Regions from separate parts of the Homo sapiens genome. Here regions 2, 3, 4 and 5 are each reported to be linked to region 1. Evidence: microRNA targets listed by miRTarBase, many of them from high-throughput screens and not tested one by one. Region 1 holds a microRNA gene; each other region holds the end of a gene's coding sequence.

Region 1 (3,000 bases):
AGGCACCTCTGTTTTCCTATCTGCATGATGGGGCCTTGAGGGTCCTCACTGTGCAGGGCTTCGGGGGCCTGGGTACTGGGTGGGGCGTACCTGGCTGCTTGGGCCGCAGCTCCCCCTCCAGGTGGCTCTTGTCGAGCTCTTCCAGGTGCTTGGGGAGCCCCTTGTCGTGGGTCAGACTGGGTGAGCTCACAGGGCTGACGGGCTCCACCCCTTCGGGGCTGTAGCTGCTGCCGTGGTAACCTAGGGCAGGCGGGGGGTGCAGAGTCAGGCACCGGGCCCAGGGTTTCGGAGCCCGAGGGGCAGGGCTGCCCTCCCAGCTGGCTGGGACCCCGGGGGGGTCAAGGGGAACCCAAGCTAGGGGTAGGGTTTGGGCTCCCAAAGACAGTAAGGCAGAGAGGGGTGTTGGGGAGAGACAGGGAGGCCAAGGGAGAGGTGGAGAGAGATGCAGAGCCCGGGACAGAGACAGACAGAGAGGGAGACACAGAGAGAGATTAGGCAAGAAGGGACAGAGATGGGTTCAGGTGGTGGAGGCCGGGCGAGGCCAGCGTGAGATGGGGGCAGCATGGGTCTCTGGGGAAGGAGTGTGTGGGGCGGAGTGAGAAGTGGGGGTGTGGCTGGGAGTGACCCTGGGTCCCCGGGGCCCCGCCTGGGCTATAGCCTCGGCCATCCCAGTCCAACAGAGAGGAGCCATGAACTAGGGCCAAGGCAGGGGTCCAGAGGCAGAGGGCTCCCCTTTTTCTGGGGTACAGGGGCTGGGGACAGGGCAAGATGCAAGAGCCAGACCCAGCTCCTCCTCGACAGCGCAGGTCCCTGCCCCGCCTCAGCTTCTCCTTGCACCGCCTGCCTCCACTTCCCCCAGTCCGACAGCATCCAGGCAGCCGGCAGGTGGGGGCGTAGGCCCGAGCCCTCCCGCAGCCCCATCCCTGCTCCCTGGACACAGGCGCAAAGAGGGAGATGGGGGCGCAGTCGAAGTCAGAATCACAGATCCATTCATTAAAGAAAAAAAAGCAAAAATCCAAAAAAAAAAAACCATGGTAAAATGATGTGCAAATGATGAGCGCCCCCAAACCAGAGGGGCAGGCGCGGCCGGAGTAGTCGTCAGCGCGTGCAAACCGGCGAGGACGGATGGGCTTCAAAACAAAATACCAAAACCAACAACAAAAAAAACGGGGGCCAAAGTAAAAAGCAGAGATCTGAAAATATCTTTGGACCACGAGACGGGGTGGGTGCGGGCCGGAAGTCTTACCATCGCGAGGGGAGCCGTTGGCCAGCGCACCTCCTTCTCGCGCCCCTTTATCGTGAGCAATTTGACGCATGATAATCGCGTCTATGAAGGTGGCCGCTGTCAGGGTGGTCTTACCCAGAGAACGGAGTTCCAGTTCCTGGATGGAAAAGGGTTTACTTTGAGTCTTTTCCCGGTGCGGGTCCGAGGCCGAGGCAGGTGGCGCCGGCGGGTCCGGGCTGGCGTGGTGAGGTGCGAGGTTCTTCGCAGGGGTGCGGGCGATGGTGGCGTGGCCAGAGACAGGAGGCACTAGGGGCCGGGGCTCCGAGCCCTTGCTGGGGGAGGAGGCGGGCTCCAGCCCGGAGCGGGCTGGGGGCTTGGCGAGGAAGGCATGGCCGGTGTCTGCTCGGGGCCGCTCTGGCCGGGCGACCCGGGGGGCCTCCTTGGGCAGCAAGACGGGCTCCATGAGGGTAGGGTAGACCCCATCGAGGGTGCCGCCCAGTGGGCAGTGGGTGGCAGGTGGGAATGTGGCAGCCGGGCGAACGGGTGAGGAGGTGGAGGTGGACCTGGGGGAGGAGAGAAGGCGGTCAGGCAGTCATGGGAGCTGCCCTCTTCCTCCACCACCCTCGATGAGTCCCCATTGCCCTGGGATAAATCCACATCCCCTGCTGCTCCCAGAGTGAAACTGCCCTCCTGACTGTAACCTGCCAGACTCTGTGCGTCATGGTTTGACCCATCCCACTCATTCGTTCATTCATTCCTTGCATCATTCCAAAACTTCTGATTAAGCAGCTACTAGGTGCCAGGCACTGTTCTAGACACTGTGAATACAGCGGTCATAAAACGGATGCAAGCATCTTACCATCTAATTCAGAAAACAGACTACGATCACATTAACAGATATCCCAAGCTCTACAGAGCCTGGTAACTGTGTGGAGGTAGTCAATGAGGTACCAGGAGAGAACGGCAAGGAAGCTGAGGCAGGGCTAGGAGGTCTTCAGGGAGGGGGCACATGAGGGAGCTGGGCCTGCTCAGGATACCCGAAGAGCTAAAAAAGCCACGTGAGGAGTGAGAGAGCAAGGGGAAGGATGCCAGGGGGCGGCCAGGGTGGGCGTTGAGAACAGAGAAAGCTGCTGTTCCCAGCTCTGTGAGTGAGAAGCTGGGGCACAGCTGCCCCTGCACAGGGCTGGGGCTGGAACAGGAGCCGGCTGCTCCACCCACGTGGCCTTCCCGGAGCCCTGCGTTTCCATGGGGGCACCCCCATCTCTCGCTAACTCTACCTCCCAGAGCCTCATTCATGAGCGGGCAGTGGGCAGGCACTCGTTTTCTCCATTATATTTTTGAATCGGCTGTCACGGGCATATCCCACAGAGCCTGTGTGCGGAACCCTGCTCCCCACAGCCAGGGATTAGTGCTTCATGCACCTGCTGGGTCTGAGTCAGGGGTGACAAAGTCGCCACTGCTTTTGGGAAACGATGCCATTTTTCATAATTGAAATAATGATTAGGGGAGGTATGACTTCAGGCATCCAAGCGGCAAGTTGGGGCACAAGTACTTTTTTGAATGAAAATTCATTTTGGAGGAGTAAGTTGCCTCTAAATAGGTCCTGGAGGCTGAGTGCGGTGGCGCACGCCTGTAATCCCGGCACTTTGGGAGGCTGAGGCAGGCAGATCACTTGAGGTCAGAAGTTTGAGACCAGCCTGGCCAACGTGGTGAAACCGCATTTCTACTAAAAATATAAAAATTAGCCGGGTGTGGTTGCACGTGCCTGTAACTGC
Region 2 (3,210 bases), not on the chromosome of region 1:
GGGAGAAGCCCTACACGTGCAGCGAGTGTGGGAAGGCCTTCAGCGACCGCTCAGTCCTCATTCAGCACCACAACGTGCACACCGGGGAGAAGCCCTATGAGTGCAGTGAGTGTGGGAAGACCTTCAGCCACCGCTCCACACTGATGAATCACGAGCGGATCCACACCGAGGAAAAGCCCTATGCATGCTACGAATGTGGGAAGGCCTTCGTTCAGCACTCACACCTGATCCAGCACCAGAGAGTCCACACTGGGGAGAAGCCCTATGTGTGTGGTGAATGTGGGCACGCCTTCAGTGCACGCCGGTCTCTGATCCAGCATGAGAGAATCCACACAGGTGAAAAGCCCTTCCAGTGCACAGAATGTGGCAAAGCCTTCAGCCTGAAAGCAACTCTGATTGTGCACCTGAGGACCCACACGGGCGAGAAGCCATATGAGTGCAATAGCTGCGGGAAGGCCTTCAGCCAGTACTCAGTGCTCATCCAGCACCAGCGGATCCACACAGGCGAGAAGCCCTATGAGTGCGGGGAGTGTGGGCGTGCCTTCAACCAGCATGGCCACCTAATCCAGCACCAGAAAGTGCACAGAAAGTTGTGACCCATGGCTGACACAAGAATCCATTCTCACAGAAACTGCATGTGGAACCACAAGCAGCCTTCAGCCCAAGAGAAGTCTCTGTTAACTCTATAGGAAGCTTTTCTTTGGCGATTCAGTGTCACAAAATAACTCCAGAAAGAAGCACTTAGCGTGCTGTTCCTGTGGAAAAACTTCAGAGACTACCTGTTTTATTTTCCTCAACATCTTGAAGTTATGTTGGAGAGTAATCATACAATTGTAGAGAATTTTGGTAAAAAACAGCCATAATTCTTTAACATTAGTTTATTTGAACTAAGGGAATTTAAGGCATAAGAACCATTATCCCAATAAAATCTTACATTCCAAATAAAGTTCTTTTTCTAAGAACATTACATGCCCTTCCTAAATATCAATTAACCATACTAATTATTGCACTTAAAATTTGAAAGTCGGACTATTTTCAGTATTCTCTTAAAAGACTAAAGTATTGTATGGATAAAGTGATATAAAAAGATATTTTCATCAAGCATCATGTAAAATGGTTGGAAATCCTAAGTGTGTGGATTTCCATCCTAAGTGTGTGGAGTCCTGTTTTGTATGAAACAAGGAAAAAGCTTATATATTAGTGAGAAATTACATAAATTTAAAAAACTTTTTGTATGTGTGTGTGGAGATAGTCTTGCTCTGTTGCCCAAGCTGCAGTGCAGTGGCATGATCTTGGCTCACTGCAGTCTCCGCCCCCACCCCAGGTTCAAGCTTTTCTTGTGCCTCAGTCTCCCAAGTAACTAGGATTATAGATATGCGCCACCACACCTGGCTAATTTTTGTATTTTTAGTAGAGACGGAGTTTCACCGTGTTGGCCAGGCTGGTCTCGAACTCCTGGCCTCAAGTGATCCTCCCACCTTTGCTTCCGAAAGTGTTGGGATTACAGGCGTGAGGCACCATGCCTGGCCTAGAAAACCCTTTATCTGGAGCTTTTAACTTTATTCAAGATCAGAAAGGTTATGCTAACTTTTTAGTAAAAATTCAACTCAAAAATGGGTATTTTCCTCAAAACTTGCCCTTATGACCTGCAGATCCTGTGCCCCAGAAACCGTGAGATGTCTCAATTCCCATGCAGGCAAAGGAGGGGAGCTTCACACTCAGCAGACCTCATAGCTGTTACACCAAGTGGGTACCTCTTTACATCTTATGGTATTTCCCCCAAAACAATGCTGAAAATACTGTTCTTTGGTAGATATATTTAAAACATACATTTCTCAAATTCAGATAGCTCTTTTTTACTATCTCTAGTATTTCTATTCCTATATTTGAAGGGGTTTTTTTTTTCATTTTTTTACTCCTGGTTCAAGAGTCCAGTATCCATTGCCATATTACTATGATGAAGATGAATCTAGTTTATTCATAATTAAAAATTTGTATTCAGAATTATTTGTTCTGTTTTAAGCATACTTTTTTTTTTTTTTTTGAGACAAAGTCTTGCTCTTGTTCCCCAGGCTGAAGTGCAATGGCACAATCTCAGCTCACTGCAATCTCCACCTCCCAGGTTCAAGCAATTCTCCTGCCTCTGCCTCCCAAGTAGCTGGAATTACAGGCACCTGCTACCACGCCCGACTAATTTTCGTATTTTTAGTAGAGATGAGGTTTCACCATGTTGGCCAGGCTGGTCTCAAACTCCTGACCTCAGGTGATCCGCCCGCCTCGGCCTCCCAAAGTGCTGGGATTACAGGCGTGTGCCACCGCACCCGGCCAAGGATACAGTTCTTGAAACCGAATCAGAACCATTTCTAGTAGCAGCCAGCTGCAAACGAAACAAATGTATGAGGTTCAAGCCACTTGAAATTCTCAACATGTTAAGTGCCTGAGATAGAGAAGGGCTGTCTTCACCCCAGGCCCCCGCCCCCAACATCTGTCAGTTTGGTGGGGAGGAAATAGTCACCAGGATATTGATCCTTTTTGTTTGTTTTAAAGACGGTCTTGCTCTGTCACCAGGTTGGAGTGCAGTGGTGCCATCATGGCTCACCGCTGCCTCAAACTCCTGGGCTGAAGCAGTCCTCCCACCTCACCTTCCCAAAAGGTTAGGATTACAGGCATGAGCTGCTGTGCCCATCCAGGCATTGATCCTTAAGTCCACAGCAAAACACCACGATGTAGACAAAAGCTTGTTCCCCCTTCTATGTACAGACACTGACAACAGTGAATTATTAACTCCAGAGAGGAACTGGTAACTGATTGGTTAACTTGAGAAAGGAGCTGACATCACTGGTGTTTTACTTCAGAGCAACTGAAACCACTGAAGTGAAATTCCAGAGGAACTAATATTACTGAGGTGTTACTTCAGAGGGACTGAGATCACTGAAGTGAAACCTCAGATAGCTCAGATAACCAAGGTGTTAACCTTAGAGGTGTTGCCATTCTGTGAGGTGTTGTTTCAGATAGATAAAATAACTAAGGTGTTAGTTCAGAGAAGACAAGAGCTTAACTGTTTCTTTGGAGAAGAGCTGAGATCACTGAGGCGTCACTTCAGAAAGAAAGTGAGACAATTTTTGTTACTTCAGAGGATCTGAGTACACTGAGGTGTTTCATCAGAGAGGAGGTGAGATCACTGGGTGTTACTTCTGAAAGGAATTGACA
Region 3 (3,000 bases), not on the chromosome of region 1:
AGTGTTGCTCAATTCTAGAATACCAAATAAGCCAATTAAGATTTTTAAACTAAATGTGTTGTAATTTTGTCTTTTGACAGTGCCATTGTACAGGTGATTCACTACTCCACCACTCCACTCACCTACTCACAATGACGGTTTTCAACATTTCAGGAACGGTTTCTACCTTAGGCTCAGAGCAATTCCTACTTCTCCCTCATGAGGAATTGGAGGAGGTGGTGATAAAATTCTTCATCTGGTTGTGAGGTGGTATTTCACACAACTCCTTGATAAATATTGGAGGTGATACTGGATACAGGAAAACTTACAATAATCAGATTGTTACAGGTAGTTAGGCATCAACAGGGCAGCAGAGGGCTCTCTCCCGACCCACTAGAAATGTCAGGTGATGGTTCAGCAATTAACAAATTGCCTCTCTAAGAATGAGAATTCGGCAGCCAGGGAGAGACAATCTCTTGATGGTCCACACCTGTTAACATTAAAAGTGTTAATTGAATACAGCCCCCCAAGCAGCAGCTTCTTGGGCACCCGTGTTAAGAGACAAATGGCGAAGTATAGGCCGGGCACGGTGGCTCACACCTATAATCCCAGCACTTTGGGAGGCTGAGGTGGGTAGATCACCTGAGGTCAGGAGTTCAAGACCAGCCTGGCCCACATTTTATATTTTTTGTATTTTTAGTCTCTACTAAAAATACAAAAATAGGCATGGTGGCACGTGATGGCGTGCGCCTTTAGTCCCAGCTACTCAGGAGGTTGAGAAAGAAGGATCACTTGAGCTTGGGAGGTGGAGGATACAGCGAGCTAAGATCATGGCACTGTACTCCAGGCTGGCTGACAGAGACTCCAAAAAAAAAAAAAAAAAGAAAAGAAAGGCCGGCACCGTGGCTCATGCCTGTAATCCCAGCACTTTGGGAGGCTGAGGCGGGCGGATCACGAGGTCAAGAGATCGAGACCATCCTGGCTAACACGGTGAAACTCTGTCTCTACTAAAAATACAAAAAATTAGCTGGGCGTGGTGGCGGGCGCCTGTGGTCCCAGCTACTTGGGAGCCTGAGGCAGGAGAATGGCATGAACCCGGAAGGTGGAGCTTGCGGTGAGCCGAGATCATGCCACTGCACCCCAGCCTGGGCGACAGAGCAAGACTCCATCTCAAAGAAAAAAAAAAAGGAATTTATAATTATATATTATTCTGTATCTTTATATATTAATTATATATTCTATAATTTTTTTGAGATGGAGTCTTGCTCTGTCTCCCAAGTTGGAATGCAGTGGTGCAATCCCAGCTCAATGCAACCTCCACCTCTGGGGTTCAAGCGATTCTCCTGCCTCAGCCTCCGGCGTAGCCAAGACTACAGGTGCATGCCACCATGCCCGGCTAATTTTTGTACTTTTTGGTAGAGATGGTGTTTCACCATGTTGGCCAGTCTGGTCTTGAACTCCTGACCTCAAGTGATCCTCCTGCCTTGACCTCCCAAAGTAATGGGATTATAGGTATGAGCCACCACGCCAGGCTATATTCTATAAATTCTAAAGAGAATGAAAAGGACTTGCCAAGCTTCCTTTGGGAGATACTAAATTTGTTTTTTTTTTTTTTTTGAGACGGAGTCTCGCTCTGTCACCCAGGCTGGAGTGCAGTGGCTTGATCTTGGCTCACTGCAAGCTCCGCCTCCTGGGCTCACACCATTCTCCTGCCTCAGCCTCCTGGGACTACAGGTGCCTGCCACCACACCCGGCTAATTTTTTTTTTTTTTTTGTATTTTTAGTAGAGACAGGGTTTCACTGTGTTTGCCAGGATGGTCTCGATCTCCTGACCTTGTGATCCACCCGCCTCAGCCTCCCAAAGTGCTGGGATTACAGGCGTGAGCCACCACCCCTGGCCCAAATTTTTTTTTTTTTTTTTTTGAGACAGTGTCATACTATGTCATCCATACTGGAGTGCAGTGGCACCATCATTGCTCACTGCAGCCTTGACCTCCCTGGGCTCAGGCGATCCTCCCACCTCAGCTTCAGGAGTAGCTGGGACTACTGGTGTGTACCACCATGCCTGGCTAATTTTTGTATTTTTAGTAGAGACAGGGTTTTGCCATGTTGCCCAAGCTGGTCTCAAACTCCTTGGCTCGTGATCCTCCTGCCACGGCCTCCCAAGTGCTGGGATTACAGGCATGAACCACTGTGCCTGGCCTAAATTTACTTTTATAACAATTACTTTTTAAAATGTCAGAACTTCCTTATAATTACACACATATATTTTTATACAAATGCACAAAGGTAATCACATCTTATCTGGATTTCTGTGTGCACCTTTTCTTAAAAATGTTAACAATCACATATAACCTCGTAGAAATTGTTTTCGTTTGCAGATGCCTCCTTTTTCATAAAATTATGTCCTTGTTTTATAATGCTGTCTTTTCCAATATAGCTGGGATCACGCCACTGCACTCCAGCCTGGGTGACAGAGCAAAACTCCATCTTGGAAAAAAAAAAAAAAAAGAAAGAAATATAATTGGTGATGCTTCTGAAGAGAAAATCCTTTGTGGTTCTTCATATTCCTAACTTGCATGACACTCTTGCTCAAAGAAGGATACCTGCTCCTAAAACCCGTCTACCAGCGGGTCTGGCTACTGTTGCTGTGGATTCCTGGGCAATACCAATCCTGCTCAACGCTTTGGATGTCCCACTCTGCCTCAACTCCAATCGGCCTCTATCATTGCAAACAGTTGGCTGAGCCTTTTCTTAATGTCCAGTTCATTTGGAGCAGGACAGGATTTTGTGTGTACTCTGATGTGCTCCGCAAGCTTAGACTTGTAAATGAAGCCCTTCCCACAATCGCCACAGGCAAAGGGCCTCTCGGGCCTGTGGATGCGCTGGTGCCTCAGCATGTGTCCCCTTTCCCGGAAGTTCTTGTCACACTCAGGGCAGTGAAAAGGCCTCTCCCCTGTGTGCAGGCCCTGATGGCTGAGCAGCTGCGCCTTCAGGCGGAAACTCTTGTCACACTTGGGA
Region 4 (3,210 bases), not on the chromosome of region 1:
ACTTGACAGTGTCCCTTTGACATATATAAAAGAGGGCACAAATAATGTTTTTGTTTTAAAAAATATTTTAACAACAGTTTTAATAGAAAAAAAATCAACTGACTTGAATTAAGCCAGTGTTCTTGACACCCACTGGGCCAAGAGCATTAAAACAAAACAAGACCGGAGAAGTTAATAAACACAGCTAAAGACAAAATTGGACAAAATAAAACAAAAGAAAACACAAAGTGAATAAGCATCCAATCAGGCAAACATGGACACAACCACCCTGAAAAGGTCTAGCCGTTGCAACTCAGTGGCATCCCCATCACCTAAAAAATGGTAGTGGCTTCTCCCCACCCCAGTGAGCTAATATTCAACATTCTGCTGATCTTATAAGTATTATTTGGTCCAATCTGAAGAAGGTCTTTTTAAACTAAAACTAGTCTAATGAAATTACACCTCAGGAATATGGAGGTGAAATTTTCTATTTTTAGTATTGTAATAGGATCTGGGCAAATTTTGCAAATATGTTGCCATCTGGATAAAAGTTATTAAATATAGATGCCTTTTTACTTACCAAGGCATTCCTTTCCCACTCCTCTTTAGTTTTAATAACTTGATTATAGTTTTGTCATGGCGCGTGGACCTGTCCAGTCAATTGTGTGTTTCAGTGCCCTTTGGTAAAGAGACTGTACTTAGCACACACACAGATACACATAATTCACAACAGCTGAGAAAGCTTGAGGGATCTGGGAAACACAAAACACCAAGAACAATGCAAAACAAATAGATTACTGCTGCATATCACTTCAAGTTTTTTAAGGGGAAAAAAAAAACACCTAAAAATAAATGCATCAAAGTATTTTTTAAAATACAGAAACGTGTACTTCTGGATGACTGATATTAATTTCCTTCCTAGCAGTCTTTTCAAGATGTTTTTGCTTCCCCTTAATTGTGACTCAAAGCTAATCAAATTGAGAGAAATGTAAGTTATGGCCCAAGGCCCTGCATTCACATCTACCTAACATCACATGCACAGGTTGGATGTAATTCAGATGCTCCAGTTTTGTTAACTGTTAATAACACAGAATTATACAAAGTTTTGCACAGCATCACATGTAATGACACATATGCTATATGCAATCAGGTAGAAAAACCGTATTTGCAGAATGGTTTAATAGATAGGTGTCAGGAACATGGTGGAAGCAGAGTTTCATGAGTGCACCTGTGCCAGAGTCCTCTACCTGTCACTGTGCTGTGAAAGTACTGCAATGAGTGGAGTTTCATATGCCTGCTGTGTATAAATTAGCTTTCATTTCCACATTGTAAGCTGGCACACTGAATTAGGGGAGCCTGGCAGCTGTATAAAAATCCTGATTAAGAGATCAAACTAGAGGATCTAAAGTGAATTTTTAATCTCTGAAATTAAATTCACTGGCTCCCATGTCTGGATAAGAATTATTGCCCCTAATGCCCCAACGTGCAATAGTCTGTGTGAATCAGTGATTCACATCCTTTAAAATAATTATTGCTTAAGCAAGCCATTTAGAGTAGATATGGGCTATGTGGCTGGATAGAAACACACTCAAAAAGTTAGACTAGACGGAAACAAGCCTTTCATTTCACTGATAAACCTACATAAATACACGATCGAAAGGGGCAACAGGTTCATAGCAGCTAACACCCTAAACCAACTCTGAAGCATCAAGACGTGGTTTCTTACTAAAACAAATCAGCTGTTTTTGTATTTTCCTCTTAAAATTAAGGCAATGAAATGGCTACAGTTCCTAAGGTTATTTTTACGGAACAAAAATATACATGTATTTTCCTCCTCAAGTTCAGGCATCAGAGTATGATTAGTGACTTGTATTACACAAAACCTGCAGCACTGGGTTGATGTGAGAGAGAGAGAGAAAAGAAAGAGAGAGACAGAAAGCAAGAAAAGCAAGAAAGCAAGCAAGCAAGAAAGCAAGCTAAGAAAAAGCCAACAAACCCCTGGTGATGTTTCCCCTTCCTGCTGAATTATAAAACCCAATCATCAAAGGGAGGAAAAGCTAGAAAGCACAAAACCTCTTAAGAGTTTTCAATGTCTCTTTCATTGATTCAAAACTTTTGGGGTGACGAAAGGGAGAAGCTTATTAACATGAAGACTCCTGGGCCCAACAACCAGACATTCTGACTCTGAAGGTCTACAGTTGGGCCTAAGAATCTGCCTTTTCACCAGCTCCTCAAGTGATGCAGGCGATCTATGGAGATTTTGAGAAACACTGCCTAGCATATATCCATTTCATATTTAATGACAAAAATTCTAAACTTTGGCTAGCCACCTATGTTAAAAGGAAAAAAGGCACTGCATATGTATTTCGTGGTGCCCATATCTGTTTGCACATATATGGAATTTCATTTTGAAAATTTTAAATCACCATTCAGAATCTAAAAGACATATATATGACAGATTGTGGCTAACACTTAACAGCAGAAGCTGATGCCAAGTTGACCTCTCCTGTTTCACTGTATTACATACATATCAAAGTTTCAGGCTCTCCAAAATCCAAAATGGCCAAATGAACTGAGGAATAGGACAAGACTCAAGTCAACTTTCAGCAATTCAGTGCACTTTGCAGAAAGGATCTAAATTAAGCATAAAGTTCTGTTGTTTATTTTACACAAAGGAGACCACCAACATTTGCCATAAATTCTTCTAAACTCTTTAAGAAGGCCATCTTCTGCTTCCGATCCAGCGTAGGAGGAGTGCTGCTTGCAGTGAGCTTGTTGAAGGCATCTGCTAATCTCTGGTAAATAACTGGGTCTTGCTGACTTGATAGTAATGTTTCGACCAGTTCAGAATATTCAGCCTATTGAAGAGATAAAGTATACACAAGTATCCTCCTTAGAATATCATACAAGTAGATCTTATCAGTTACTGGACTGTGGGGTTCTAAAAGGCAGGGACACATTTTTAAGAGTTAACATTTAGAATAATTCAGCATTTAAGTACTACTGTTTGAAAACCTTTTACATGGATTAATTCATCTATCATTTACAACAATGCTTCGAGACAGGTACTGTTTCTATTCCCATTCCAGAGGTGAAGGTTTCGACACTCAGTGAGGTGAAGTGATATGGCCCAGATCAAGCAAGAGTCCACCAATCTAGCCCCAAGACCCATGTGATAATCAACTTTGTTGTGCTGCCTCTTCAAAGCACATTATTCCTATTTATGTTGCG
Region 5 (3,210 bases), not on the chromosome of region 1:
ACTTTGAGAGGCTGACGTGGGTGGATCGCTTGAGCCCAGGAGTTTGAGACCAGCCTGGGCAACATGGCAAAACCCTGTCTCTACAAAAAGTTAAAAAAAAAAAAAAAATTAGCTGGGTGCAGTGGCACGTGCCTATAATCCCAGCTACTTGGGAAGCTAAGGTGGGAGGATTGCTTGAGGTGGGAGGGTTGCTTCAGCTGGGCTGTCCAGGCTGCAGTGAGCTGAGATCATGCCACTGCACTCCAGCCTGGGTGAGAGTGAGACCCTGTCTGAAAAAAAAATTTTTTTTGTTTTTCATGTTTTAATTTATTCTGCAGGTTCCAAGAAACTACAAAACTCAGCATCAGAGATCCAGAGCAGGGTTTAGAAGGATCTCTAGAACAGCCTGCAAGCCCCAGGAAAGTACTGGAGGAGCTGTCTCATCAGTCACCAGAAAATCTCGTATCACTTGCTTAATCACTACACTTAAAATTACTGCTTTTGAAAAATATTAAGCAGCTAACTTGGGTTTGAGTCAAGGCAGGGAAAACTTGGGTTTTGAGTCATGGCTACTGTTAGAGGATGGACAAATGAAGAGTAGCAGATTAACAGGCCAGGCGCAGTGGCTCACGCCTGTAATCCCAACACTTTGGGAGGCTGAGGCAGGCAGATCATCTGAGGTCAGGAGTTTGAGACCAGTCCAGCCAACACGGCAAAACTCCACCTCTACTAAAAATACAAAAATTAGCTGGGCGTGATGACACGTGCCTGTAATCCTAGCTACTTGGGAAGCTGAGGCAGGAGAATCACTTGAACCCAAGAGGCAGAGGTTGTAATGAGCTGAGATCACTCCACAGCACTCCAGCCTGGGCAGCAGAGCAAAACTCTGTCTGAGAAAAAAAAAGAGCAGCAGATAACAGAGAATAGTTCAAGGAAATCAAAGTGGGGAGGCTCAGGTGGAGGGATGGTAGCCTAAAGTTAAGGGTTCCTGCTTTGTGCCTCACACTTAGAGAATTAGGTACAGAAAAGAGAGCACAGGCCCAAATGCCTATAAGGGGCTAGTGCAGAAACATAAATGCGTCCATGGAGTGGGTGTAGACAGTAGGAGATAGTAGACACTGGAAAGTATCAAATCCTGCTGGAATATAGGCTCAGAGTTACTACATCAACTACATTTTCATCAAGCCAGAAATTTGTATGCTATCAACTAATTTAAAAATTACTTAGAAATATTGTATGGGCAAAATAAAATACATCTGCATATCAGATCTAGCCCATGGGGGATGAAAAACTTACAACTTCTAGTACAGGATTTCTTATCCTCAGTGCTATTAATATTTTGGGCCACCTAATTCTTTGTTGAGGGTTGGGGAAGGGAACTGTCCTGTACATTGTAGAATGTTTAGTAGCATCCCTGGCCACTACCTGCTAGATGCCAGTAGTACCCCTCTCCCCAGCTGTGACAACCAAAAATGTCTCCAGATATTGCATATCCCCAGGGGGCAAAAATGTGCCTGGCTGAGAACCACTGCTCTAATATAAATGGCTGCATGAAGCAAAAACTGGCATTCTAAGAATACAAGTAATTGCCATGAACACAGTCTATGTACTATGTGATTATGCATGTCATTAACAAATTAAGAATTTAAAACAATTCTCTCCCGTTATCTGTTTAGAATGTGCCTGTGTGTTTATGTGAGCATGAGGTTCATTTTAAGTAAACTTAAAATTTCCCAGACAACCAAGATTTTCTACTAGTAGGTGAACTTTGGAATAATTTTCTTCTCACCAATAATAATTGGATATTCTGGCTCGGTGCAGTGGTTCATGCTTGTAATCCCAGCACTTTGAGGGGCCAAGGCAGGAGGATCGCTTGAAGCCAGGCGTTCAAGACCAGCCTGGGCAACACAGACCTCATTTCTACCAAAAAAACCACAAAAAGTTAGCTGGACTGGTGGTACATGCCTATAGTCCTAGCTATTCAGGAGGCTGAGGTGGGAGGATGCCTTGAGCGTAGGAGTTCAAGGTTACATTGAGCTATGATTACACTACTGCACTCCAGCCTGGGTGACAGAGCAAGACCCCATCTCAAATCATAATGATGATGAGTGGATATTTTCTCAGTAGCTGTGGAGACAGGATGACTGATAGCAAGAGTGCCTGCTCTAACTAAAGCACCTTTCTCAAGCTTTTTTAAAAAAACTATCTTTGTGGAAAAATTCAGAAGTATCTGTTTTTATTGCCATTTTCTCAGATGCGTCTTTTTTGGTGGTGACAGAGTAACTATCACCTGGGCTTAAGAAATGAAGATGTTCTTGTTGTTTCCTAAGACTCCTCGGTTCAGTTTTACTGGTATGGAATCCTAAGGGTAAATCAATACACTATTTTAAAGGGAAAGATTAAATTCTTAATCTCTAAGAAAACAAATTTTGTATAAAACAAGAGCCAAAGAACTGACTGGGCTGTTTTGTTTATTTAAAGGAAAACCTGAATCTCTGCATCATGTAATTTTTAACTTTAAAAAAACAAAAACATGAAATCCCTCTTAACATGCTACTGTATGTTCCATTAACGAAGAAAGCAAAGTGACCAAGTAGAAGTGTATAGGACAAGATAGTACCTCAGCCTGGGCCAAGGGGAGATTCAAGTAATTTATTTTTTTGCAGCCCAGTGGCAGAGAGTCTCTTACTCAGGTTGCTAAAGGGAGAATGTAACAAGAGAATTGACATCACTCCCTTCTTCAAAGCAACAAGGCATCTTGAAAACTCAACTTCCTGGTGAAGCTCTGTTGTTGGTAGCAGGAATTATTTCATCCATGTGAAAAGACAGCTGAGTCTGGGATGAAAACTCTTCAAAGGAAAACCTCCCCTCAACAGTCAGAATGAAGAACTTCAGCCAACACATAATCAAATTCACTTTTGGTCTATCCCAGAAATTTGCAGTGGGAAGAGAGGTAGGTACAGTTTCCCAGCCCACAGTCATTGCTTCATTCCTTGTCTGATCAGATGGTAGTTAGAAAAGAAGCTCTCCTACATCCATCTTCTATACCAGGAAAGAGGAAGAGTGGCAAAAGCAGAGTCTTGTGCCTTCAAAGATTCATTCTGGTTCTGTTGTGGGCTAAGGCATCCTGTTCCCAGTATACGCATTTTGAGATCAGATAGAGTTGCTCTTCCAGGAGTCAGCACCCACGCTCATGTCCGTCTTTCAGTTAAATCTCCTTGGTTTAGTAAC

The links. The annotated mature microRNA hsa-miR-6880-5p reads UGGUGGAGGAAGAGGGCAGCUC and lies in region 1 at 1,824-1,845, opposite strand. An mRNA with a match to its seed (bases 2 to 7 or 8) in the 3' UTR can be bound and repressed. Matches are read on the target gene's strand: a 7mer-m8 pairs with bases 2 to 8, a 7mer-A1 pairs with bases 2 to 7 and ends in A, and an 8mer does both.
Region 2: the mRNA of ZNF250 is a reported target of hsa-miR-6880-5p. Seed matches in the 3' UTR shown: 7mer-m8 at 2,110-2,116.
Region 3: the mRNA of ZNF786 is a reported target of hsa-miR-6880-5p. The part of its 3' UTR that is shown has no 7-base or 8-base seed match.
Region 4: the mRNA of XPO4 is a reported target of hsa-miR-6880-5p. Seed matches in the 3' UTR shown: 7mer-A1 at 1,180-1,186.
Region 5: miRTarBase lists FAM161B as a target of hsa-miR-6880-5p. Seed matches in the 3' UTR shown: 7mer-m8 at 698-704.

The regions. Positions count from the first base shown.
Region 1 is chr12:124,335,393-124,338,392 of GRCh38, forward strand. MIR6880 (microRNA 6880) reads right to left here and starts at 1,850; the gene lies at 1,789-1,850. NCOR2 (nuclear receptor corepressor 2) reads right to left here. Exons shown (of 49, transcript NM_006312.6): 40 at 1,361-1,788; 41 at 91-240. RefSeq lists a silencer at 1,062-1,242.
Region 2 is chr8:144,878,901-144,882,110 of GRCh38, reverse strand. It overlaps ZNF250 (zinc finger protein 250), which reads left to right. Exons shown (of 6, transcript NM_001109689.4): 6 at 1-3,210. The coding sequence ends at 596. Among named protein-coding and RNA genes, the nearest start is that of ZNF250, 21 kb to the left of the region's middle. RefSeq lists enhancers at 2,535-2,724, 2,925-3,074.
Region 3 is chr7:149,067,739-149,070,738 of GRCh38, forward strand. ZNF786 (zinc finger protein 786) reads right to left here. Exons shown (of 4, transcript NM_152411.4): 4 at 1,903-3,000. The coding sequence ends at 2,685. Among named protein-coding and RNA genes, the nearest start is that of ZNF786, 21 kb to the right of the region's middle.
Region 4 is chr13:20,781,083-20,784,292 of GRCh38, forward strand. XPO4 (exportin 4) reads right to left here. Exons shown (of 23, transcript NM_022459.5): 23 at 1-2,837. The coding sequence ends at 2,640. Among named protein-coding and RNA genes, the nearest start is that of EEF1AKMT1, 8.7 kb to the left of the region's middle.
Region 5 is chr14:73,931,502-73,934,711 of GRCh38, reverse strand. FAM161B (FAM161 centrosomal protein B) reads left to right here. Exons shown (of 9, transcript NM_152445.3): 9 at 318-2,436. The coding sequence ends at 456. ZNF410 (zinc finger protein 410) reads right to left here. Exons shown (of 12, transcript NM_021188.3): 12 at 2,191-3,209. The coding sequence ends at 3,171. Among named protein-coding and RNA genes, the nearest start is that of FAM161B, 17 kb to the left of the region's middle.